Linked DNA regions of Homo sapiens. The protein of the gene in region 7 purifies or fractionates together with the protein of the main gene of each other region. This does not show direct contact. Each region holds a gene or a part of one and is shown on either strand. Other genes may lie near its edges.

Evidence for each region.
Region 1: the proteins of VASP (region 7) and PSMA5 fractionate together in Homo sapiens (co-fractionation; one large-scale study listed by BioGRID). This does not show direct contact.
Region 2: the proteins of VASP (region 7) and UTP4 purify together in Homo sapiens (affinity purification with mass spectrometry; 3 studies listed by BioGRID and IntAct, with this or other methods). This does not show direct contact.
Region 3: the proteins of VASP (region 7) and CTU1 purify together in Homo sapiens (affinity purification with mass spectrometry; 3 studies listed by BioGRID and IntAct, with this or other methods). This does not show direct contact.
Region 4: the proteins of VASP (region 7) and LRP4 purify together in Homo sapiens (affinity purification with mass spectrometry; 2 studies listed by BioGRID and IntAct, with this or other methods). This does not show direct contact.
Region 5: the proteins of VASP (region 7) and GTPBP1 purify together in Homo sapiens (affinity purification with mass spectrometry; 3 studies listed by BioGRID and IntAct, with this or other methods). This does not show direct contact.
Region 6: the proteins of VASP (region 7) and RAB35 fractionate together in Homo sapiens (co-fractionation; one large-scale study listed by BioGRID). This does not show direct contact.

Annotation. Positions count from the first base shown.
Region 1 is NC_000001.11:109,416,449-109,419,948, forward strand, and holds part of PSMA5 (proteasome subunit alpha type-5), read right to left. Parts: intron 1-3,500. UniProt on the Homo sapiens protein: Component of the 20S core proteasome complex involved in the proteolytic degradation of most intracellular proteins. This complex plays numerous essential roles within the cell by associating with different regulatory particles.
Region 2 is NC_000016.10:69,160,149-69,163,648, reverse strand, and holds part of UTP4 (U3 small nucleolar RNA-associated protein 4 homolog), read right to left. Parts: intron 3,294-3,500; coding exon 3,187-3,293; intron 567-3,186; coding exon 471-566; intron 1-470. UniProt on the Homo sapiens protein: Ribosome biogenesis factor. Involved in nucleolar processing of pre-18S ribosomal RNA. Part of the small subunit (SSU) processome, first precursor of the small eukaryotic ribosomal subunit.
Region 3 is NC_000019.10:51,101,910-51,105,409, forward strand, and holds part of CTU1 (cytoplasmic tRNA 2-thiolation protein 1), read right to left. Parts: intron 2,682-3,500; 5' UTR 2,661-2,681; coding exon 2,153-2,660; intron 1-2,152.
Region 4 is NC_000011.10:46,908,551-46,912,050, forward strand, and holds part of LRP4 (low-density lipoprotein receptor-related protein 4 precursor), read right to left. Parts: intron 1-3,500. UniProt on the Homo sapiens protein: Mediates SOST-dependent inhibition of bone formation. Functions as a specific facilitator of SOST-mediated inhibition of Wnt signaling.
Region 5 is NC_000022.11:38,712,444-38,715,943, reverse strand, and holds part of GTPBP1 (GTP-binding protein 1), read right to left. Parts: intron 38-3,500; coding exon 1-37. UniProt on the Homo sapiens protein: Promotes degradation of target mRNA species. Plays a role in the regulation of circadian mRNA stability. Binds GTP and has GTPase activity.
Region 6 is NC_000012.12:120,106,754-120,110,253, forward strand, and holds part of RAB35 (ras-related protein Rab-35), read right to left. Parts: intron 1,715-3,500; coding exon 1,664-1,714; intron 1-1,663. UniProt on the Homo sapiens protein: The small GTPases Rab are key regulators of intracellular membrane trafficking, from the formation of transport vesicles to their fusion with membranes.
Region 7 is NC_000019.10:45,510,479-45,513,978, reverse strand, and holds part of VASP (vasodilator-stimulated phosphoprotein), read right to left. Parts: intron 1-3,500. UniProt on the Homo sapiens protein: Ena/VASP proteins are actin-associated proteins involved in a range of processes dependent on cytoskeleton remodeling and cell polarity such as axon guidance, lamellipodial and filopodial dynamics, platelet activation and cell migration.

The DNA.
Region 1 (3,500 bases), on a different chromosome or scaffold from region 7:
TCCCCTGGAATACATTCTTCCTTCCCCCAATCCAAATTCCACTCATCAAAGCCTTCCATGACTATGCTTTCTGCTTTGAATTCCATTATATTTAGTTATTTCTACAAAGTAATCACTGCCAAGTGTGAGCACTGCAAAGAGTTCCAAAGAATCCCACGAATCTTTATGTATAACTTGCTTAACATGTCTGCAGACTGAATGATCATTTCACACGCATATATATTATTTTTCAAATGTGTTGAGTTGTGACTTTATTTAGAAGTGTTATTAAATGTACACCAGCTTTTTGTCATGTATTTTCTTAATCAGTGGATACCTGCATAACTACAGGAGATGAACTGTCAAAAAATTTTATGTAAAAAAATGAGTACTCAGGTTGGGCATGGTGGCTCATGCCTGTAATCCCAGCACTTTGGGAGGCTGAGGTGGGCAGATTGCATGAGTCCAGGAGTTCAAGACCAGCCTGGGCAACATGGTGAAACCCTGTTTCTATAAAAAATACAATAATTAGCCAGGCTTGGTGGCGTATGCCTGTACTCCCAGCTACGCGGAAGGCTGAAACGGTAGGACTGCTTGAGCCCGGGAGGCAGAGGTTGTAGTGAGCCAAGATCACGCCATTGCATTCCAGCCTGGACAACAGAGTGAGACCCCATCTCAAAAAATAAATAAATAAAAATGAATGCTCATATTTCTAGTTAAAGGTGCAGACTAAAGACATAACATTAGTTCCACGCCTTCCTTAAGTCTATTGATGTAAGATTAAAGGACTTCTAAAAAGGCATAAATCCACTATAACAGAGAGTGGGAGAAGACACAGCAACAAAACTTTGAAGCTAAAAAGAAGATAGGTTAGTGATACCTGGGTAATCCAAATCCTAAACCAGCCGTAAAGAAAGTAAAGAAACAACCTGATTTTTATCACAGGACCTCAAAAAAGGAAATGGTGGCAACAAGGACCTCTGGAAATGGAAATGAACAAGGAGCTAAAAATTGCAAGGTGGTTCAATGTTTAAGAAACAGATTCCCGGATCCCCTCCCCTATGCTGTAAAGCTAGACGACTGCACCTCCCCCACTCCCGTGGAAGACTCCAGGCTTATTCTCTGGAGACCGTAAAATAGAGCGTCTTTGGATTGGGGACACCAAGCACAGTCTAAGGCAGGAATAATGTACTGAAAACGGGATAAATATGTAAAAATTTCCAAACCAAATGTTAAGAACCTCAGCCTTCTTTCCCTACTCAGCTCTCAGAAGCCAGCAGCCAGAAATACCCTCCCGGAATGAAATGAGAAGAGGCAGTTTTCTCCTGAGCAATGTTTTTCAAACTTTTTGACCAAAAGCCACAGTAAGGAATACATTTGATTTCATAACTAAAACCCACAAATAAATATAAATACATAACAGAAACAAAATTTCAGGAAAAAAACCACTCATCACTACTATGGGCAAGGCATTTTGATATCTACTGCTCTGTTTCACTTAAAAAAGAAATGTGGGCCAGGAGTGGTGGCTCATGCCTATAATCACAACACTTTGGGAGGCTGAGGCAGGAAGATCACTTGAGCCCAGGAGTTTGAGACCAGCCTGGGCAACATGGCAAAACTTTACCTCCACAAAAAATAAAAAAAAATAACTGGGTGTGGTGGCATGTGCCTGTAGCTGGGGGCTGAGGTGGGAGGATCACTTGAGCCTGGGAGGTTGAGGCTGCAGTGAGCTGTGATCGTACCACTGCACTCCAGTCTAGGTGACAGAGTGACATTCTGTCTCAAAAGAAATGCTCCTCATGACCACTAAATTTATTTTATTATCTCCTAATAGGTCTAGACCTGCAGTTTGAAAAACATAGCTCTAAACAATCTGACCAGTTCAAAAGGAAAAAAAAATATTTTAGACAGGGTCTCACTCTGTTGCCCACGATGGAGTGCAGTGGCACAATCACGTCTCATGGAGCCCCAACCTCCCAGGCTCACGAGATCTTCCCACCTAAGCCTGCAAAATAGCTAAGACTACAGGTGTACACTACTACACTCAACTAATTTTTTAAATTTTTTGTGAAGACAAAGTCTCACTATGTTGCTCAGGCTGGTCTTGAACTTCTAGACTCAAGCAGTCCTCCTGCCTCAGCGTCCCAAAGTGCTAGGATTACAGGTGTGAGCCTTGCCCAGCCTAATTTTTTAAATTTTTTCTAGACACGGGCTATGTTGCCCAGGCTAGTCTTGAACTCCTAGGCTCAAGTGATTCTCCTCCCTCAGCCTCCCAAAGTACTGAGATTATAGGGATGAGCAACAATGTCCACAAGGAAAAAAATTTTCAAGAAAAATTAGAAAATTGTTGAAGAAAAACAAGACATTTCATCCATAAAACAAGAACGGGATGCTAATAAGAAGAAAAGAAACAAAAGAAGTTGAAAATTAAAAATTATTTCTGGCCAAACACGGTGGCTCATGCCTATAATCCCAGCAATTTGGGAGGGTGAGGCGGGCAGATCACCTGAGGTCAGGAGCTCAAGACTAGCCTGACCAACATGGACAAACCCCGTCTCTACTAAAAATGCAAAATTAGCCAGCGTGGTGGCGCATGCCTGTAATCCCAGCTACTCAGGAGGCTGAGGCAGGAGAATCGCTTGAACACGGGAGGCGGAGGTTGCAGTGAGCCGAGATCACGCCATTGCACTCCAGCCTGGGCAACAAGAGCAAAACTCCACCTCAAAATAAATAAATAAATAAATAGTTTCTACAATACTACTGGAAAATGGGTTCTACCAAATTGAGCAAATAAATCAAAAAAGATGACATGGGGCCTTACACAAGAGGGAGTTAAAGGGAATGCCTAGAATGATCTCACAGAAAATGAAGTCCACAGGTACACAGGAGGCCCAGAGAACAACCAGTCCAGACTGGAGCAGATTAGAAGGCTCCAAGATTTCATTAAGAATCCTTAATAGGGCACTGTGGCTCATACCTGTAATTCCAACACTTTGGGAGGCCTAGGTGGGCGGATCACTTGAGCTCAGGAGCTCGAGACCAGCCTGTGCAACACAGCGAAACCCCGTCTCTACAAAAAATACAAAAACTTAGGCCAGGCGCGGTGGCTCACATCTGTAATCCCAGCACTCTGGGAGGCAGAGGCAGGTGGATCACAGGGTCAGGAGTTCGAGACCAGCCTGACCGATATGGTGAAACACCATCTCTACTAAAAATACAAAAATTAGGTGTGGTGGCACGCGCCTGTAATCCCAGCTATTCAGGAGGCTGAGGCAGGAGAATTGCTTGAACCTGGGAGGCAGAGGTTGCAGTGGGCTGAGATAGCGCCACTGCACTCCAGCCTGGGTGAGAGAGTGAGACTCCGTCTCAAAAAAAAAAAAAAAAAAAAAAAAAACAAGCCGCGCATGGTTGTGCATAGCTGTAGTCCCGGCTACTTTGGGGGCTGAGGCGGGAGGATCACTTGAGCCTGGTAGGTTGAGGCTGCAGTGACCTGAGATGCGCCACTGCATTCTAGCCTG
Region 2 (3,500 bases), on a different chromosome or scaffold from region 7:
GGTATAGAAAAAAGTAGATTAGGTTCTAATTTTGGCTGAGATTAGGTACCTGATCTTATTAGGGCTTGATTTCCTCATCGGCAAGCGTAAAGGTGAATGATACAATCTTTTAGTCACTTTCAACTCTCAAAATCTTATTCCATCCCATATCCAGTTTAATACCCAAGCCCATGTCATCTCTCCTCTAAAACAATCAGGAAAATGAGTACTTCAAAATTCCTCCTCCCTCTTGTGATTCTTTACTCTAGAATCTTAGTGCTTCTCCATTTAAATTGCATCCCATCAAACCAATGCATACTGCTGGCCTATGATGAGCCCAGACCGGCAAGGAAGCTTTACTTCACACAGGAGAAAACTACCTTATATCCTCCAACACCTTCAAAAAAAAGCTCCCCGCAACTGCCCAATATTCCAGCTTCTAGGTTACTATCCAGCAGGAAGGGAATAGAAAGCACTGGAATCTCCCTTACCTGCTGGTCCGAATGAGCGATGACAAGGTTGTTGGTATTGGGGGCAATAGCCATAGCAGTCACTGGGAAATTGTAAGCAGGCACCGTGCAGTGAAGCTGGGAACAAATAACAGACACAAGTGGCAACTCTAAGTGACACTTTTCCTCAGCAAAGATTGAATGGTCTAGGTCAGGGGTTTAAATACTGCTCCTCATAATTCAAAAGGGTTCTAGGGAAGTTCCAAAAATTTCAGGCATTTCCCCAACCAATGAACTTTCATTTCTTTTTCTTCTCTTTTTTTTTTTTTTGAGATGGAGTTTCGCTCTTGTCACCCAGGCTGGAGTGCAGTGGCGTGATAATCAGCTCACTGCAACCTCTGCCTCCCAGGTTCAAGTGATTCTCCTGCCTCAGCCTCCCAAGTAGCTGGGATTACAGGCGCCTACCACCACACCCGGCTAATTTTTTGTTTTTCTTTTTTTTTTTTTTTGAGATGGAGTTTCACTCTTTCTCCCAGGCTGGAGTGCAATGGCATGATCTTGACTCACTGCAACCTCCACCTTCCGGTTTCAAGTGATTCTCCTGCCTCAGCCTCCCGAGCAGCTGGGATTACAGGCACCCACCACCATGCCTGGCTAATTTTTGTATTTTTAGTAGAGACGGGGTTTCACCATGTTGGCCAGGCTGGTCTCAAACTCCTGACCTCAGGTGATCCACCCACCTTGGTCTCCCAAAGTGTTGGGATTATAGGCGTGAACCACTGCACCTGGCTTAATTTTTGTATTTTTAGTAGAAACGGGGTCTCACTATGTTGGCCGGGCTGGTTTTGAACTTCTGACCTCATGATCCACCCACCTCGGCCTCCCAAAGTGCTGGGATTACAGGCGTAAGCCACCGCACCAGTCCTCATTTTCTTAAAAAAATACCTATTGGTTGGCCGGGCGCAGTGGCTCATGCCTATAATCCCAGCACTTTGGGAGGCCAAGGCAGGCGGATCACGAGGTCAGGAGTTTGAGACCAGCCTGGCCAACATGGTGAAACCCCATCTCTACCAAAAATTAAAAAAATTAGCTGGGTGTGGTGGCGTGCACCTGTAATCCCAGCTACTCAGGAGGGTGAGGCAGGAGAATCACTTGAACCTAGGAGGCGGAGGTTGCAGTGAGCAGAGACTGCGCCACCACACTCCAGCCTGGGCAACAGTGCAAGACTCAATCTCAAAAAAAAAACAAAAGGCCTATTGGCTGGGCGCAGTGGCTCACACCTGTAACTACAGCACTTCGGAAGGGCCAGGGCGGGAGGAACGCTTGAGTCCAGGAGTTCAAGACCAGCCTGGGCAACACAGCAAAACCTCATCTCTACTAAAAAAAAAGATTAGCTAGGTGTGGTGGGACTCGCCTGTAGTCCCAGCTACTCAGGACACTGAGGTGGAAGGATCGCTTGAGCAGAGAGGTCAAGGCTGCAGTGAGCTGTGACTGTGCCACTGCACTCAGTCTGGGTGACAGAGTGAAACCCTGTCTCAAAAAAATAAAAAGCTTATTTAACCGCGTACAAAACTAACAGCGTTTGTGGAGAACTGAGAGTAAAGCCTTTCCCTCTGAGTAAATCCATCTGTACAAACTGCTTATAAATGTGTCATTGAATAGGGAGTCTACAGCTCTACACCAGGTTTAAAATAAATAAATGCCTAGGCATGGATTTTTATGTACAATTGCAAAGCATGTGCACGCTACACACAAACACTCTTTAAATGCCAGGCAAGGCTCAAAGACAAGTGCTCAGTACATGCTCCTACCATAATGCAACAAAGGTTACACTATGCAGTTAACAGGTAAACCCATTAAGTGTTGCAGTTTGATGTTATTCTATACACTTTTAATGCTTATTCCAAGTTTTGGGTAGTTCGAATCTGATTCTTATAATGAAGATGAGGACTTGTAAGGGATCACTAATGACTCAATTTATGACTGACAGCGTCATTACTGATTAGTGAAAAATGTTTTCCCAGTATTCCTTTTTCGAAGTTTTGATTATGTTTACCTTGAGATTACAAGGCAAGCCATGAAAGGAACTCTTATTATCTGCAACTATTTGTCTGTGTATATCAGAATTTTCCTCCCGAAAATACAGAAAGAACCTGGATGTGTTTACATCACCCACAGATCATTAATTTCAAATTTCCAGGTATGAATGGGTTTCACTGTTTCCATTAGCTGCTTTTAATGTTACACAGTATAGCTTCCGGGTTCCATAAAAATAAAACAGGATTCCAAACCTGGAAAAATTATTAGTTAAAAAGAAAAAAGTCTGGCCAGGCGCGGTGGCTCATGCCTGTAATCCTAGCACTTTGGGAGGCCGAGGTGGGCGGATTGCCTGAGCTCAGGAGTTCAAGGTCAGCCTGAGCAACACGGTGAAACCCTGTCTCTATTAAAATACAAAAATTAGCCAGGTGTGGAGGCACACACCTGTAATCCCAGCTACTCAGGAGGCTGAGACAGGAGAATCATTTGAACCCGGGAGGCTGAGGTTGCAGTGAGCCGAGATCGCGCCACTGCACTCTAGCCTGGGTGACAGAGTAAGACTTTGTCTCAAAAAAAAAAAAAAAAGAAAAGAAAAGAAAATAAAAAGAAAAAAGTCTAATAAATTTCCAGGTCATGCCAATCTGCCTTGAATCTTGTAACTGCAGGGTGAACTGGCTCCTGTACAATGATTCAAACTGCTGCCATGAAACCCTATGCTCACCTTTAGCTGTTTTACGTTGTAGACATGGACTCCAGCACTGGTACCTGATGCAGCTAGCCAATTCCCATCTGGACTGACTGCCAAAAGACACATGGCCTCCACTGTTCCTGTGAGGACAAAACAGTTACATCTCTGAATTCACACAGTGTCCACAGCCAGACCTGCCCTGGAGATGATGGCAAAAGCCAAGGAGACCATTAGAGTTTTAAATCACTGCCAGGATAATTTGCTGATCACTGTGCAAATTACTTCTAGATGTTAATGTTTCTACTTTTTTCATCTACTTATTTAACCATCCCGCCTGTAAAGAAGGT
Region 3 (3,500 bases), 5.6 Mb from region 7:
GTCAGGGATTTTTCTGGAAGGCTTCATTACTTTTGGAAGTACAATTAATAAGTGATTCTATCAAATTAACTTTAAAATCCGAGGCAGCCTCTCATTCTTTTTTTTTCTCCCCCAGCTGGAATCTTGCTCTGTCACCCAGGCTGGAGTGCAGTGGCGTGATCTCGACTCACTGCAACCTCCGCCTCCCGGGTTCAAGCAATTCTCCTGCCTCAGCCTCCCGTGTAGCTGGGATTACAGCCGCCCACCACCACACTCAGCTAATTTTTGTATTCTTAGTAGAGACGGGGTTTCACCATGTTGGCCAGGCTGGCCTCGAACGTTTGACCTTGTGATTCCGCCTGCCTCAGCCTCCCAAAGTGCTGGGATTACAGGTGTGAGCCACTGTGCCCGGCCGAAGCCTTTCATTCTTTCCATACACTGTCTGCTCTTGTATGGTAAGGATTATTCTTCCCATTTTCAATCACAGAGATCTAGGGATTTCTCCAAAGTTACTCAGTAAGGAAAGGGCCACATCAGTGAATGAAGCTCAGTAAGCCTTCCCCAGAGCCAGTGGCCCTACCTAGCATGGTGGCACATGACAGCCTCAGAACTACTTTTGCCTTCATATGCTTTCAGTGTGCTGATTCTCTCCAACCATCATCTCTCACCTCCATCACCGCAGCTGGCTTCCCACTGACTGGTCTCCTCGGCTTTGTCCCTGTCCCTCCAACCCAGGTTCCTCGCCATGGCCTGGGTGAGCTTTTCAAAGTGAAACTCTCTTCATGTCACTTTTACTGGTTCCGCCACAGCCTACAGGGTAAGGCCTGACCTCTTCCACCTCTCCAGCCTCCCCTGCCCTTGCTTTCTGGGTTCCAGCCACACTGGACTTCTTGGGGCAGCCCAAATTGGCTTTTCACAGGCCAATAACCTCTCCCTAATTCTTACCCGCTTTACCTCTTCACTGTGAGCCTTCAGATTTCAAAACCGTTCCTTGACCCCACTCCCTCCACGTCATAGGGTTCTCTGTGTGTACACATAGTCCATAACATGTCCATACATGGTCAATAACATGTATAATGTTTATAATTTTGTACCTGATAACCATGCAAAGGTAGGAACTTGTGCGTAACTGTATTCTCAGCCCTAGCCTGACAATGATGATGATAATAGCATGTATAAAATGTGTAATCTATATTATATCATACGGGTTATGTAACATAACTATAATATAGATAACGTTATACTTCTACTGACTCATCTAATTGTCATAACAAGTTTATGAGCTGGGTACCATTCATAGTCCTGTTTTAGGGATGGGGTGAAACAGAAGTACAGAGTGGTTAAGAACTTTGGTATGGCCACAGTTGGGATCCGGCATATAGCAGAAACTTAGCATCTGTTTGTTGAAGGAATGGATGAAAAAGACAGAATAAAAAAGTTATCTTCCAGCACTTTGGGAGGCCGAGGTGGGTGGATCACGAGGTCAGGAGATCGAGATCATCCTGGCTAACATGGTGAAACCCCGTCTCTACTAAAAATACAAAAAATTAGCTGGGCGTGGTGGCAGGCACCTGTAGCCCCGGCTACTCGGGAGGCTGAGCCAGGAGAATGGCGTGAATCCGGGAGGCAGAGGTTGCAGTAAGCCGAGATCGCACCACTGCACTCCAGCCTGGGAGACAGAGCGAGACTCTGTCTCAAAAAAAAAAAAAAAAAAAAAGTTATCAAAGAGGAGAGGCCAACCAAGAAAAGGAATTAAGAGATGGAGATGCTTTTTAGAGAAAGAGCTGGATTCTGAAAGGTGGACCATAAGAGATCAAGCATGTTAGAAACATTTAAAAATAAGTAAAGGACCAGAGATCTCCAGAGATTTTCACCTCCCACCCCTTTGGCAATCTGTGGAGACCAAGACGGTGGCCAAGACCCAAAAACCTTTGTGATCACTGCCTGGCCCCTCTGTCTCCCCAGCGTCTTGAACCTTTAAAGGGCCCCAGCCCCAAACTGCAGCATGCGCCCTTCCGCACCTCCGTACAGGGATCCTCCCATTAAGCCACCAGGGTCTCCTCGCCGCCTTCTGGAGCATGCGCCTGAATCCCCTTTCAGGTCCCGCCTCCTCGCCTGTGCATTCGCCCCACTGCCTCGGAGAGTGCCGCTCTGCGGCCCGTACTACGCTCACCTGTCACGATGTGCGTGGCTCCCACGCGGCGCGCCCCTTCCTCCAGCGCCCGGCGCCGCAGCACTCCACAGAAGGTGCAGCAGGAGCGGCTGCGGCCGGAGCCGGCTGTGCTGCGGGCCACGGCGTCCATCGTCCAGCCCCCAAAGAGGTCTTCGTAGGCCACGACCGTGAGCGGCAGCTCCCAGCGCGCCGCCTGGCGCCGCACGGCCGCCAACGCCGCGTCCCGGTAGCCACCGATGCCCTCATCGACGGCCACGAGCTGCAGTGAGATGCCCAGGCGCGGCGCCAGCGCGCGCAGCACGTGCGCCAGCACCGTGGAGTCCTTGCCGCCCGAGGCGCCCACGGCCACCACCGCGCCGGGCGGCAGCAGGCGGCCGGCGAGCACCGTGTGCAGCACCTCGGCCTCGAAGGCGGCGCAGAAGCAGGCACCGCACAGCGCTTGGCCCGAGAGCGGACGGCGGAGGGCGGCGCGTGCAGCATGGCAGGAGGCGCACGGCGGGGCGGGCATTGCGGGAGGGGTCGGCTTCTCCTAGACAGGGAGAGAGAGGAGGTGGGTTACATATGGATTCCGGATTGCAGGGTCCCTGCCATCGGGGAGATTGTCTGGATTGCACCTCTGCCCGGAATAGACCAGGGAGACGTGTGCGCGAGTGGAGTAGCTTCTTCTAGCGCTGGGGATAGGATGGTTATAAATAGGTCCGGTGTAAGGAAGCCACTGCCTTAGGGAAGGCTTCTTGGATTGCACCCATTATGCAAGAAGAAGAGAAGTAGCTTAAGAAGCTGGCTTCATGGGTAAAGAGAGGGAGCGACAAGCAGGTTATACCCAGGATTAGGTTGTGTCCTCTCCAGAGGGATGGGGGTGTATATTAAGGCCCATTTGTCACAACCTCCAGGGAGGCCACCCTTGTTACAGTCCTGATCAGGACAAGGTAGGTATCATTGGCCTGGGCCACCAGGGCTGTTAAAAGCCCTTGGGAGGTGAGGGGTTTTTGACTCTAAGGGCAGAGGGAGGCCAGGGGACTGAAGCTCTGTGCAGCGGGAGGTGGAAAACAGGAAAGGCCAACTGATTGCACTTTGTAGGGTGGGATACGGTCTCCAGGAATGGGTTCTGATTGCATCCTATGAAAGGCAGGGTGATCACCTTCTCCAGGGAACACAGGCAGCCTGGATCACACCTCTCAGGAGACCAGCTGGGGTTGCACACATTTTGAGGGTGAGAAAATGGGTGGGCCTCCAAGATTGAACTCAACCCTGCTCTGGTATCAGAATGCCCCACAAGCTTCTGTGCTCTCACCAAGACATGGATCGGCCCATCTTTGACCTTCATCTGTTATCTTTCCTACTTCAT
Region 4 (3,500 bases), on a different chromosome or scaffold from region 7:
TGGTATTACTGTTGTGAGAATCTCCAAAACCCCAAGGTCAAAAGGGGGAATTTACAACTTCTGGGTCCCTCTCTTTTATGTGTTCTCCAATAGCAAATATGCAGTGAGTTTATGGGTCTCAAACAGTGACCTCTTTCTGGTTACTGCTAAGGTAAAGAAAGATTCATTTCCCTCGCCGGAAGGTAAAGTAATGAAGTGGGGAAAGTCTGGCGTCCCAGCACTTTTGAATCAGCACTCGAGTGTTGTTGGTCCAGGGAACAGGGCTTCCCATAACAAATAATTATACTTTGCAATTTCTCTTTAGTTTGTGAGCTACTTTTGCATATGCACTTGCATTCTCATTGAATCATTACAATAATCCTGAGCAATGACTGCAGGGCCCATCCAACAGGTAAGGGCACCCGCTTTGGCCAAGGTCACAAGGTAAGTAGGAGAGCCAGGATGGCAGCCCCATTCTGACACTTAAACTAGTATTCTTCTCTTAGTGTGATCTCAGAGTCTGGACTTTCAGTAAGCTTTCCGGGTGACACCGATGCACACTCAAGTGTCTAGCGGCACTGCTCTCCACCATTCCATAGAATGCACAGCTGAAGGTGGACCACATCTGTCACATGGAGGCACATGGGTAGACCGTGACTACTCACAGCTACAGACCAGCTTTTTCAAGCTGAACCAGAGATGAGAAGGCTTAAGGAGTACCCTGTGAGTGTTCTGGAGTCTGGTGGCTACCCCAGTGTGGAAGCTATTAGGATTACAATGAGAAAAGGAGGAATCGGCCGGGCGCGGTGGCTCACGCCTGTAATCCCAGCACTTTGGGAGGCCGAGGCGGGTGGATCATGAGGTCAGGAGATCGAGACCATCCTGGCTAACAAGGTGAAACCCCGTCTCTACTAAAAATACAAAAAGTAGCCGGGCGCGGTAGCGGGCGCCTGTAGTCCCAGCTACTCGGGAGGCTGAGGCAGGAGAATGGCGTGAACCCGGGAAGCGGAGCTTGCAGTGAGCCGAGATTGCGCCACTGCAGTCCGCAGTCCGGCCTGGGCGACAGAGCGAGACTCCGTCTCAAAAAAAAAAAAAAAAAAAAAAAAAAAAAGGAGGAATCACCATTCGTTTATAATATGCTAAAGCATATTAGCATATGCCTCTCTCCTTTTATCCACTGGCAGCAATAAATACAAGTTCGTTGAATGAATGAATGAATGAATGAAACACTCCTCTAGAATCTTGTGAAAGCTGGAGTCAAAGGAAAAGAGACTCAGAATATCATAAATAAAAGTAGTTATTTCCTACCTAACCAGTGCTGGAGAGAACAGGAATCTTCTCGTTTGCAAGGCAGCCTCTTTGTCCTACCCAGGTTTTGTTTACTCCTTTCTCCTACAAGAGTTCCTTTCACCAGCTGTATTATCCGGCTGTGAAACTGACACGCCATGTTTCTACTTATTTCTGTCCCATGGTCCCTTTTATTCCCGATTCCTAGAGGCCAGCTTAACTTGGTTGGTTTGGAAAATCTACCAGGTGAAGTCTTCTCCTCAGTGGCCCGTTTCGAAAGGGACATGTCGGGCACATGATTGCGGGTCCAAGCAAGTTCAGCCCTCTCTTGCTACTGTTACATACAGAAAAGAAGTCCTTAATGGTTAGCCTCCAAAGTTATGAGGCAGAAGAACATAATGTTAAGCACGGAGGAACAAAACTCCCCAGGATAAAAATCCTGACTCTGCTAAGTTCCTAGCTGTCTGACCCTGGGCAGCTATTTAACCTCTTTATATATAATTTTCTCATCAGGAAAATTGGGATAATAAAATCCCCTAACTTACAGGAATGTTATGAGAAATAAATTAGTTAATTCATAAGAAGGACTTAGCATTACTGCCTGGCACATACTAAGTGCTCAATAAATAATAGCTCTTGTTATTACTATTAAAGATTTGGCTTACCCCAGAACTGTCACATCCAACCACTCCATGATTAAGACCTGCTATTTTAGGACTTGAGATGTTTGAAAACCCTACTGTGTACCAGGCAGCAGTACCACCACCATGGGTTAAGTTGGTGGCATGAATAACTGCAGAGTCTTGCTTTATTGCCTTTCTCTGAAAGAGCTTGAGGCACATGGTATCCTTTATCCTTGCCCCCTTTTTTTTTTTGAGGTGGAGTCTTGTTCTGTCACCCACACTGCAGTGCACTGGCACAATCTCAGCTTACTGCAACTTCCATCTCCCGGGTTCAAGCGATTCTCCTGCCTCAGCCTCCCAGGTAGCTGAGACTACAGGTGTGTACCGCCACACCCGGCTAATTTTTGTATTTTTAGAGTAGAGACAGGGTTTCTCCACATTGACCAGGCTGGTCTCAAACTCCTGGCCTCAAGTGATCCACCTGTCTCGGCCTCCCAAAGCACTGGGATTACAGGCACGAGCCACCACACCCAGCAAATCTTTGCCTAATTTATCACCAACTAATTCTGAGGAGCCAAGGACAGGAGAGAGAATCCAGAAACTAAAGTACAGAGCAATTAAGAAATGGATTAGCTTCCACTTTTGTAAATCAGGAGTAATAACAGTATCTATTTCATAGGGTTGCTGGGAGGTCTAAATGAAATAATACGTATGAGGTTCATACTAGACAGCTGTTATTGTTTTTCTTGTTATTTGTACTAATCCCATTATCTTCATCTGGATATGTCCTCTCTCTCAACCTAGTAATGTAGCCAATGCCAGGCTATCTTTGTATAGATCCTCAAAATTCTACCTGCCCTACCTGGAAGCTGTCAACAGATTTCACAAATCCAACAGGGCTCAAACATGGCTGTGCTCTGTGAAGGGCTGCTCAAAATATTGCTTTCCCTTCCCCCTACATCTCAAATCAGAAGGTCCACACAGTAACAAACCACATTTGTTTATGGCTGTTCAGGGAGCAACAAACCACATTTTTCTGGAAACCTTTTAAAGTCTCTCTCTTCTCCTGAGCCCATGAGTTCGAGGCTACAGTGAGCTATGATCATGCCACTGCACTCCAGCCTTGGCAATAGAGTGAGAACCTGTCTCAAAAAAAAAAAATAAATAAATAAATAAAAATAAAGTCTCTCTCCCTCAAGAAGCACCTGAGAAGTAATTCCTTATGCATTCAGACTCCCTGAGAAGATGTCTGAAAACAGAGGAGAGGTCAATCCAAGATGAAATATAGACCTTCCCAACCTAGATCTTCTGGGATAGCCTGGAATCCTGGCTCAGTTACTCACTATTTGTATGACAGGAAACTGCTCTGAGCCTGTTTCCCATCTGTAAGATGGGAATCTTCTTTTTTTTTTTTTTTTTTTGAGACGGAGTCTCGCTCTGTCGCTCAGCCTGGAGTGCAGTGGCACAGTCTTGGCTCGCTGCAACCTCTGCCTCCCAGGTTCAAGCGATTCTCCCACCTCAGCCTCAGCCTCAGCCTCCTGAGTAGCTGAGACTATAGGCATGTGCCACCACGTCAGCTAATTTTTGTATTTTTAGTAGACATGGGGTTTC
Region 5 (3,500 bases), on a different chromosome or scaffold from region 7:
TCCATGTCAGCTTCACTCAGCCCATACTCAGTCCCATCTGGTGACAAGAGCCCAGACATCAGCAGGAGAGGGAGTCCTGACCAACCAGCCTGCCAACCAGCCAGCCAGGAACCCCACCTAACAAAGGCCACCACCCCCCGACCCCAGCACTGCAGAGGAACAGGGGTCCTCTCTACCTGAGAGAAAACCTGGGCACACACCAAGTTAAAACATGACAGTGCCACAGACCTCTCCATCAAGCAGAGCATTCGCTACTTCATTCAACAACAGCCACCGAGGCTCTCCCAGGTTTTATGCCAAGCCTCATGCTGGGTACTAGGACTACAGGTGCCCCTAGTGAGCTCACAGCCCAGTGGGGGAGGCAGACAGGAAATTAATTAATTGCAATACAGCTCAAGTGCTGCACTCTAGGACTGTGTGAAGAGAACATAAAGCACTGCCTGGGGAAGCCGAGGACAGTTCTGCAAAGGGCTGATGCCAAGCTAGGTCAACAAGTGCTGGGCCTGCAGAAGGAGGAAGGACATCCTAGCCAGAGGAACAAAGCGTGGCGTGGCAGATCATGGCAAGTTCAGGGACCAGGAAGCAGCTCAGTGTGTTGAGGAGCAGCATGGGTGACATGGAGTGTCGGGAGACTACATGAGAGGTGGAAGCAGCACAACAGACGGACAGCAGCGACACACCTTCTGCACCAGGCATTGAGACACCCGTAGGCTGAGGCAGGGGAGTAACATGATCAGATGGCTGTGGGTTAGAAAGATCTCCTGAGTAGCAGTGCCAAGTGTGCACCAGCAAGTGAGAGACCAGTAAGGGGGGAGTCCAGTTAGGAAGTAATTCTAATAATGCAGGCAAGAGATAATGACGACAGAAAGATGGAGGAAAATGGGGGAGGAACTCAGAAACATTTTAGAGATAAGATTTTTAACTGAGGTGGCTCAGGTGACATGTCCAGCAAGCAGCTGGAGAAATGAGTTTGAGCTCAGGACAAGGAAGGGAATCAGACAGAAGGCAGGACCAACCGACCAAACAGTTACTGAGCTCCTACTATATGACAACCCGTCAGCTGCTTTCCATGAGGTGCTGGATTTAATTTCCACAATCACTCCCTCAGCCTTTCCCAGCTGTCCTGTCTCTGAGAGCACCCCTGCTCCTTCCCTGGCTGGCTAACCCCTTCAGCATGTGTGACTCTCTTCCCCCGCACCAAATATTCTCCTTGTCTCTTCTTCTCTTCCTCCCACTCCAAACAAGCTCCTAAACTAAGGAAAGGAAAACCACCCCCCTTCCCTTGCCCCTGCTTATCTGCAAAGCTACCATCTCCTGTTTTTCCTTTCACCATCAAACATCTCGAGAGTCATCAACGCGTGTTGACTGTACTATCCCACCATCTACTCAATGGGAATCTGCCCACTACAGAAGAAACCGCAGTTGTCACATGCCACCAGTGGCCTTTTTTTTTTTTTTTTTTTTTGAGATGGAGTCTCACTCTGTCACCCAGGCTGGAGTGCAGTGGCACAATCCTTGCTCACAGCAACCTCTGCCTCCCAGGTTCAAGCGATTCTCCTGCCTCAGCCTCCCAGGTAGCTGGGATTACAGGCGCCCGCCATCATGCCTGGCTAAGTTTTGTATTTTCAGTAGAGACGGGGTTTCACCATGCTGGCCAGGCTGGTCTCGAACTCCTGACCTCAAGTGATCTGCCCGCCTTGGCCTCCCACCAAAGTGCTGGGATTACAGGCGTCAGCCATCATGCCTGGCCCACCAGTGGCCTTCTAAACTCTCTAATGCCCTCTTCTTGACTCCTACAGCATTCGATACTGCTGGCCACTCAGCCTTTCCCTCTTGAAGCACTTCCCTCCCACCCTGCTCACGCATCACCTGACCTCTCCTGATGTGCCTCCCCACCCCGTCCCCCGCTCTTGTCTCCTGAATGCCAGTTTTTTCCAGTAGTCTGTCAGTGGCCCTGTTCTGTTTCCTCCAAACTTTCCCCTTGGCCATCTTGTTCTATGGCTTTGGCTGTCATTTTGAAAACTATAAAAACACTCATTTCTAACACCATCCTATGCCCAGAACTCCAGACTGAATTTCCAATTGCCTGGATAACTCCTAGAAGTCTGATATCCAAACTCAACACCCAACCCAACCCTCTTTTAAACAACAGCACAGACACTAACAATGTTAATAAAGCATTTTATTTCTCACTGTAATCTTATGAGGTAGGCATTACTGTTCCCTTTTAACAGTGGGGTAAAAAGAACCTAGGGAGATCTCAGAGCTTGGGGGAGGCCATGAGTTCAGGTCTTCAGATTCCAAAACCAGAGCCTTTTCCTCTTACTGCCTGACCAGTTCCTTCTTTATTTCTGACAATGACAATACCATCTCTCTAGCCACCAGTCTCCTCAGTCCAGTCCTGATGATTCTAGCATTTTACCTTGCCTCCTTCCCTGATGTCTGCCCTTTTTGCCAATCCGCAGCCACCAGCCTGATTCAGGCTGTTATTCTACCTGAACCACCACAACAGACTCTTAACTTTTGTCTTTACAAATTCAGTCTCTATTCCCTCCAACCAACCCCTTAAGGTCCTAAATAAAGCACAACTCTGACGCCGTCACTTCAAGTCAAAGCTTATGAATGGCTCCCCAGGCCCAACTGCTTAACAGCCTCCCCATTTGTGCCGTACTCCCTCCTCACTTTCTTCTTGTAAGCTCTGTCATGGTGCAAGTGGCCCCATCACACACACAGCACTCCCCTTCCTTGTGCTGGGGTTCTCTGCAGGGTCCTAGCTCTACACCTTTGCTCATGGATTTCCTATCCTGAAAGCCCAACAGCGCACCTCCTCCTAGCAAAATCCTACTCATTCTGCCCACAAATGTCTGTGTCTCCCTTACATTTGCAATGTACTGCCTTGTGCAACAGTGTTTTGGATACACATCCTCCCCTCCCCGCACAATACATAAGCATCTTGAAAACAAGGAACATACCGCAACAATTTCCTGATGCCCCACAACCAGTGCCTTTCCTCAAATGTTTGTAAAATGTAAAACAAATGAACAAAGAGGGAGCGGTTGGGCTGAGGAGTTTCTAAATGCACGGCAAAGTGAGCTGTGAAAGCCTTCAGGGTTAGAGAAGGGTTTGCTGGGAGTGTTCCTAAGAAGGCTGGCTAAATTCTATTCAACCTCCCCTGCTCCTGTTCTTTCAGGTCCTGTTCCACACCAAGGGCTATCACCAACGTCACCTTGTCCATCAGGGCTCTCGGTCAGTCACATTACCCGTCTCCAGCATGCATCACATTCCTCACTCTGTGGAAGCCGAGACAAAGGTGGAGGAGAAAAGCTGCAGAGGTCCAATTACTAAAGGCCACATACTCAGCCATGCCAGACGCTAATCAGATTTCCATCCTGCCGGCTCATTCACTTTTCTTATATGTATTCTCCTCTTCTACAGGCTGCAAAGACTCCCTAGACTCTCAGAATAAAAGTCTAACCTCTTTGGCATGGCATTTAAGGACC
Region 6 (3,500 bases), on a different chromosome or scaffold from region 7:
CATTTTTTTATTTTTAGTAGAGACAGAGTTTCACCATATTGGCCAGGATGGTCTCAATCTCCTGACCTCATGATCCACGCGCCTCGGCCTCCCAAAGTGCTAGGATTACAGGCGTGAGCCACCGCGCCTGGCCAACGGAATCACTTTCTAAAGGCAGCCCAGCCATGTCAGAGGGAATTCTCCACAAGATAATCAGAGATGTCAACCCCACCCAAAGCATCTGTAATGAACCTGATTTTTTTTGTTGTTTTTTGAGATGGAGTCTCGCTCTGTCGTTCAGGCTGGAGTGCAGTGGTGCCATCTCAGCTCACTGCAACCTCCCTCTCCCGGATTCAAGCAACTCTCCTGCCTCAGCCTCCCCAGTCGCTAGGATTATAGGTATGCACCACCACGCCCAGCTAATTTTTGTATTTTTAGTAGAGACGGGGTTTCACCATGTTGGTCAGGCTGGTCTCGAACTCCTGACCTCATGATCCACCCGCCTCGGCCTCCCAAAGTGCTGGGATTACAGGTGTGAGCCACCGCACCCGGCTGAACCTGATGTATTTAACAAACAAAAATGTGTTCCATCTTACCAGTGATTAGGGAAATACAAATGTAAACAAGTTAGCCCTTTTTGCCTATCAGCTCAGCAAGAATGAAGACAGCTACTAAGATCCAGCACTGACCAGGGTTGACAAGGGGCACTTTCCACCCTTCAGTGGGACTGGATTAAATGACTCCAGCTTCTTTGAAAAGCAGGTTGGCAGTACCTATGAAAATTCTCAGTGCATACACCCTGTAAGCCAGTAACCCCACTTCTACAGAAACACGTGCACAAGAATAAGTATCAGCTGGGCGCAGTGGCTCACGCCTGTAATCCCAGCACTTTGGAAGGCCAAGGTGGGTGGATCACCTGAGGTCAGACGTTCGAGACCAGCCTGACCAACATGGTGAAACCCCATCTCTATTAAAAATATAAAAATTAGTCGGGCGTGGTGGCAGGTGCCTATAGTCCCAACTACTTGGGAGGTTGAGACAGGAGAATTGCTTGAACCCAGGAGGCAGAGGTTGCAGTGAGCCGAAATCGCGCCACTGCACTCCAGCCTGGGTGACAGAGCAAGACTCCATCTCAAAAAAAAAAAAAAAAAAAAAAAAAGAATAAATATCGCCTATATCCCAAGTAGCTAAGCATCGCTGAAAACACAACCAGAAGTCAGGCACGATGTAACAGCAGCGTCAGTGCACCATGTGGTGCCTTCAAGCACAGAAAGCCCACCGCACTCAGATGAACCACAAAGGCCTGCATGTGGAGCGCAGAAAGAAATCAGAAAGACACACGCTGACCACAGGCTGCCAGGGAGGCATAGGGGGCAGGAGCAGGGACTGTGTCCCGGGTGGCACCATAGACGCTGTTATGGGAACCTTCCTGTTTGGACCATGGGTGGGAAAATGATGGGCCAGCCAAAGGGTTTTCGTGAGCAGGTGCATTAGACAGACCACAGAGGCTTCTGACAGAAGCGCCACAAGGTCCTAAGCCCCACTCCATCTTCTTCCCTCCTCTGGCAACCAGAATGAGACAGTTCCCAACATCAGGCAGAGGCAACTCTGTTTGGTGCCAGGGAGGGGATGTCAACAAACAAACAAAAACGACACCCCAGCAGCACTGCAGGGGAGGACTCACCTGAGAAAGTGTTGTCTGCAAAACGCAACAGTAAACTGCTCTTGCCCACACCTGCAAGAGAGAAAGCACTGCGATGAGGGGGGCAGGTGGGTCCCCTCCCCGCAGCCCCAGCCCTTCTTCCGGGAGAGGATGCCTCAGTCCCAACTCTTAAGAAGCTCGGTGGGACCCAGCTCACTTCTCAATGCTCTTTCCACCTCCCTGAGCGGCCACACACCAAGAACATCTCTTCCACTCGATCCCTGACCTTTTCCTTCGTCCTTGTGTAAGACAAGCTGCTCCCAAATCCCCTGGGGGAGAGATGAGAAAGGGACTGGTGCCCAGGCCCTAGGCTGAGGGCTGGCCCAAAGGGAGATGCCAGACGACAAAGCAGAATGAAGGTCAACCACACGAAACGGCCCCCAAGTGCGTCTACAACATGGTCCCTAGAAAAGTGCACAGCACGTTGTAGCACATCAGTTAGGGAGCCGCCCAAAATGAAGAGCTGTAGAGCGGGAAAGGACCCTTGAGATCATCAGGGCTATTTTGCAGGTGAGGAAACCAAGGCCCACATAGCTAGAACTCAATGGCTACCATCTTTCTGGCTGATGTCCCCGCCGGGTGGGCTGGTGGAGTGGAGGGTCTGCCTTATACCCATCAGGGCAGCAGCCCACATGTGCTCAGACCATGCACCAGCCACAGCAGCTCCTGGCTGCTTAGAGCACAAACATGTACACATCTGGCCTCCCCCACTTTTTTTGTAAAGAAATGGGGTTTCAGGCCAGGCGCGGTGGCTCATGCCTGTAATCCCAGCACTTTGGGAGGCCGAGGCAGGCGGATCACCTGAGGTCGGGAGTTCAAGACCAGCCTGACCAATATGGAGAAACCCCGTCTCTACTAAAAATACAAAATTAGCTGGGCGTGGTGGCACATGCCTGTAATCCCAGCTACTCGGGAGACTGAGGCAGGAGAAGCACTTGAACCCGGGAGGCGGAGGTTGCAGTGAGCTGAGATCATGCCACTGCACTCCAGCCTGGGCAACAAGAGCGAAACTCTGTCTCAAAAAAAAAAAAATGGGGTTTCATTCAGTCACTCAGGCTGGAGTACAATGGTGCAATCATGTCTCACCACAGCCTCCAACTCCTAGGCTCAAGTGATCCTCTGACCTCAGCCTCCCGAGTAGCTGGGACCACATGTGCATACCATCATGCCCAGCTAATTTTTTTATTTTTAGTAGGGACAGAGTCTGGCTACGTTGCCCAGGCTTTTTTTTTTTTTTTTTTTAATCTTTTGTAGAGACGAGGTCTTGCTATGTTGCCCAAGTTGGTCTCAAACTTCTGGCCTCAAGCAACCCTCCCGCCTGGGCCTCCCAAAGCGCTGGGATTACAGGCATGAGCCACTGCGCCTGGACCTCTCCCCTTGACTTCAACTCACAGTGCTTTCAGCCTGCCAAGTACACCTGTTCCATGTCCTCCTATCCTGTCCCCAATCTCCAACACCCCTGAGGCCAGCCAAGTTAATTGACCACAAAGAATTCACATGCATCGGGCTGTGTGTGTGGTGAGCCCTTGGATGCCTCTTTGATTATAATTCTGGCCACATCTCTTGAGATGAGGAACCTCAGGCCCAGAGTGGCCGGCCTAAGTGCCTCTGTGAGCAGCAGTAAAGCTGAGATCTGCATCCAGGCCGGACTCCTCCAGAGTGCTAACACTCCTCCCAATACACATTGCTGGGAGTCTTGCGTCTGGTTCAGGAAGTTTGGAAAAAATGACCTGTGGGGGCTCCAACATCTCACTCCTGTTAGATTTTTAATGAAAATGCCACGAAAGCTATGAAACCCCCTGAAACAAAGTGCAGATTT
Region 7 (3,500 bases):
AGGCAGAAATTTGTGTCCCAGTTGTTCACTGCTGTGTCCCCAGAACCTAGAATGGCGTCCAACACATAGTAGGGACTCAATAGTTACGAAACATCTGTAAAAAAAGGCAAACTTTGGCCAGGGGAGGTGGCTCACGCCTGTAATCCCAGCACTTTGGGAGGCTGAGGCAGGAGGATCACTTGAGCCCAAGAGTTTGAGATTGGCTTGGGAAGGCTGGGTGTGGTGGCTTATGCCTGTAATCCCAGAACTTTGGGAGGCCAAAGCAGGTGGATCTCTTGAGGTCAAGAGTTCGACACCAGCCTGGCCAACATGGTGAAACCCTATGCCTACTAAAAATACAAAAATTAGCCAGGCATGGTGGCTCATGCCTGTAATCCCAGCTACCCAGGAGGCTGAGGCAGGGGAATCACTGAACCCAGGAGGCAGTTGCAGTGAGCCGATCTCAGACCACTGCACTCCAGTCTGGGAGACAGAGCGAGACTCTGTCTCAAAAAAAAAAAAAAAAAAAAAGGAGAGAGACTAGCTTGGGCAAGATGGTGACCTCCGTCTGTACAAAAAACTTTAAAATTAGCTGGGTGTGGTGGCGCTTGCCTGTAGTCCCAGCTACTCAGGAGGGTGAGGCAGGAGGATCACTTGAGTCCAAGAGGATGAGGCTGCAGTGAGCCTTGTTCAGGTCACTTGCACTCCAGCCTGGGCAACAGAGCAAGACTCCCTCACAGAGCAAGACTCCCTCACAAAAAAAGGCAAACTTTTACCTAGGACACCTAACATTTCTCAGTCAGCCTGGGTCCCAGACACTCTTCTTGGTGCTTGACACCAATTTCCCTGCTGCATGACTCTACAACCTCATGGGATAGGCTCTGACGCTCACCCTTTTGACAAGGGGGAATTGCAGGCACAGAGGAGTGAAGGCACTTGCCCCAGATCACACAGCAAGTAAGCAGAGGGGCTCATAGTTGAAACGAAGTTCCCACAAGTTCTTAACTTCATTTAAAGATGAAGAAGCAGAGCTAAATTGAAATTTTTAAAAGCCAAAGTACAAGGTAGTGTTGATCAGAGGCTTTACAAAACCAAAAAAAAGGTCGGGTGCGGTGGCTCATGCCTGTAATCCCAGCACTTTGGGAGGCCAAGGCAGGCGGATCACAAGGTCAGGAGTTTGAGACCAGTCTGGGCAACATAGCGAAACCCCGTCTCTACTAAAAATACAAAAAATTAGCCAGGCGTGGTGGCGGGCGCCTGTAATCCCAGCTACTTGGGAGGCTGAGGCAGGAGAATCACGTGAACCCAGGAGGCGGAGGTTGCAGTGAGCCAAGATCACGCCACTGCACCCCAGCCTGGGGGACAGAGCAAGACTCCGTCTCAAAAACAAAAACAAACAAACAAAAAAGGTAGGCTAGGCGCAGTGGCTCAAGCCTGTAATCCCAGCACTTTGGGAGGCCGAAGCAGGCGGACCTCTTGATGTCAGGAGTTTGAGACCAGCCTGACCAACATGGTGAAACCCTGTCTCTACTAAAAATAGAAAAATTTGCTGGGCGTGGTGGCGCGTGCCTGTAATTCCAGCTACTCAGGAGGTGAGGCAGGAGAATTGCTTGAACCTGGGAGGTGGAGGTTGCAGTGAGCTGAGATCGCGCCACTGCACTCCAGCCTGGGCGACAGAGCAAGACTCCATCTCAAAAAAAAAAACAGTGAGGAGCATATATAAATATATCTGCACTCAGAGTGGTGATATATGCAGAGACTGTTTCCCAAGACACTAACTGTGGCTGCCTCCATTGAGGGGAACTCAGGAACTGGGGAGGGAAGAAACAAATATTTTGTACCATTTATCTTTTGAGACAGAGTCTCTCACTCTGCACCCAGGCTGGCAGTGGTGTAATCTCAGCTTACTGCAGCCTCCACCTCCCAGGTTCAAGCAATTCTCCTGCCTCAGCCTCCCAGCCTCCACTTCCCGAGTTCAAGCGATTCTCCTGCCTCAGCCTTCTGAGTGTCCGGGATTACAAACGTGTGCCACCACGCCAGGCTAATGTTTCTATTTTCAGTAGAGATGGGGTTTGGGCGTTTGCCACATTGGCCAGGCTGGCCTCAAACTCCTGACCTCAGGTGATCTGCCTGCCTCGACCTCCCAAAGTGCTGGGATTACAGGCATAAGCCACCAGGCCCAGCCACCATTTCAATAATTTCAGTAAGTATTTCAAACTGCTTATTATTTGTTTTCTTATCATGGGTTGAAATTACCTATAAAAACCTAACTCACTACTTAAGTTCAATAAATAAAACTGTAAACTACACAAAAGCCAGAACGAAAATCCCATAGCCATAAAACGGGGGTGCGGGGGCTGTGAGATGGAAAGGAGTTCTGCCCATTTCCAGTGTGTTTTCCCGAAGTCTAGAACCCTCCATTGGACATGAGAACACTTTAATTTTCCAGCCAGCCCAGGACCCACTCCTCCCTGCAAGTCCCCACATTTTGGAAAACTCTAGCACATGGCGGATGAAAAGACGGTTCAAGTTGCCTCCTTGTTGTGTGGCTTTGCCTCTCTGAAACTCAGTTTCCAGCCCTGGAAACAATAACTCACTGGGTTCATTGTAAGGATTAAAAGAGATAATGGACAAAAAGCCCTAAACGCAGGAACTGTAACTTGGTACACGCTCCACATGAAGGAGAGAGCTTCCCATCACCAGAGGTAATCAAGCATGGTGAATCCGGTTTTCACAAAACTTGCAGTCTTACCCTTCCCTTCACTGTCCCCTGAACCCAAGACTTAGCCCATACCCTCCTTATACCATAAAACCTATGATACATATACACCACCCTTCCAAACGACAAATCTTCTTTTGTCGGGGATGGGGCTACTCTAGTCCCTTCCTCCTGGTGGGCCTCAGTTTCCCATAAGTGAATAGGAAGATAAATGTTGCAGCTTCGGTTTCATTTGGCTTATCTGAATTATCTTAAGAGTTTTCACAGTGAAAGCACGTTCCTTTTTTTTTTTCTTTTTCTTCATTAAGAACACGGAAAGCATGTTATCTCTATTTTTTTTTTTTTTTTGAGACAGGGTCTCACTTTGTCACCCAGGCTGGAGTGCAGTGGCAAGAATATGACTCATTGCGGCCTCAACCTCCCCAGCTCAAACGATCCTCTCGCCTCAGCCTCCAGAGTAGCTGGAACTACAGGCGCATGCCACCACACCCAGCTAATTTTTGTATATTTTGTAGAGACGGGGTTACACCATATTGCCCAGGCTGTTCTCAAACTCCTGGGCTCAAGCGATCCTTCTGCCTTGGCCTCCCAAAGTGTTAGGATTACAGGCATGAGCCCCGGCGCCTGGCCCTGTTTGAGTTTAATAGGCACCTTGCCTAACTTTCCTGTGCCTCAGTTTCCCCATCTATAAACTGAGTACCGGGGTGGGGAGGCCACAAGGTTGTAATAGTATCATTGTTCGAACTGCCATGAGGGGCCAGGTGTGGTGGCTGACGTCTGTAATAATAACACTTTAGGAGGT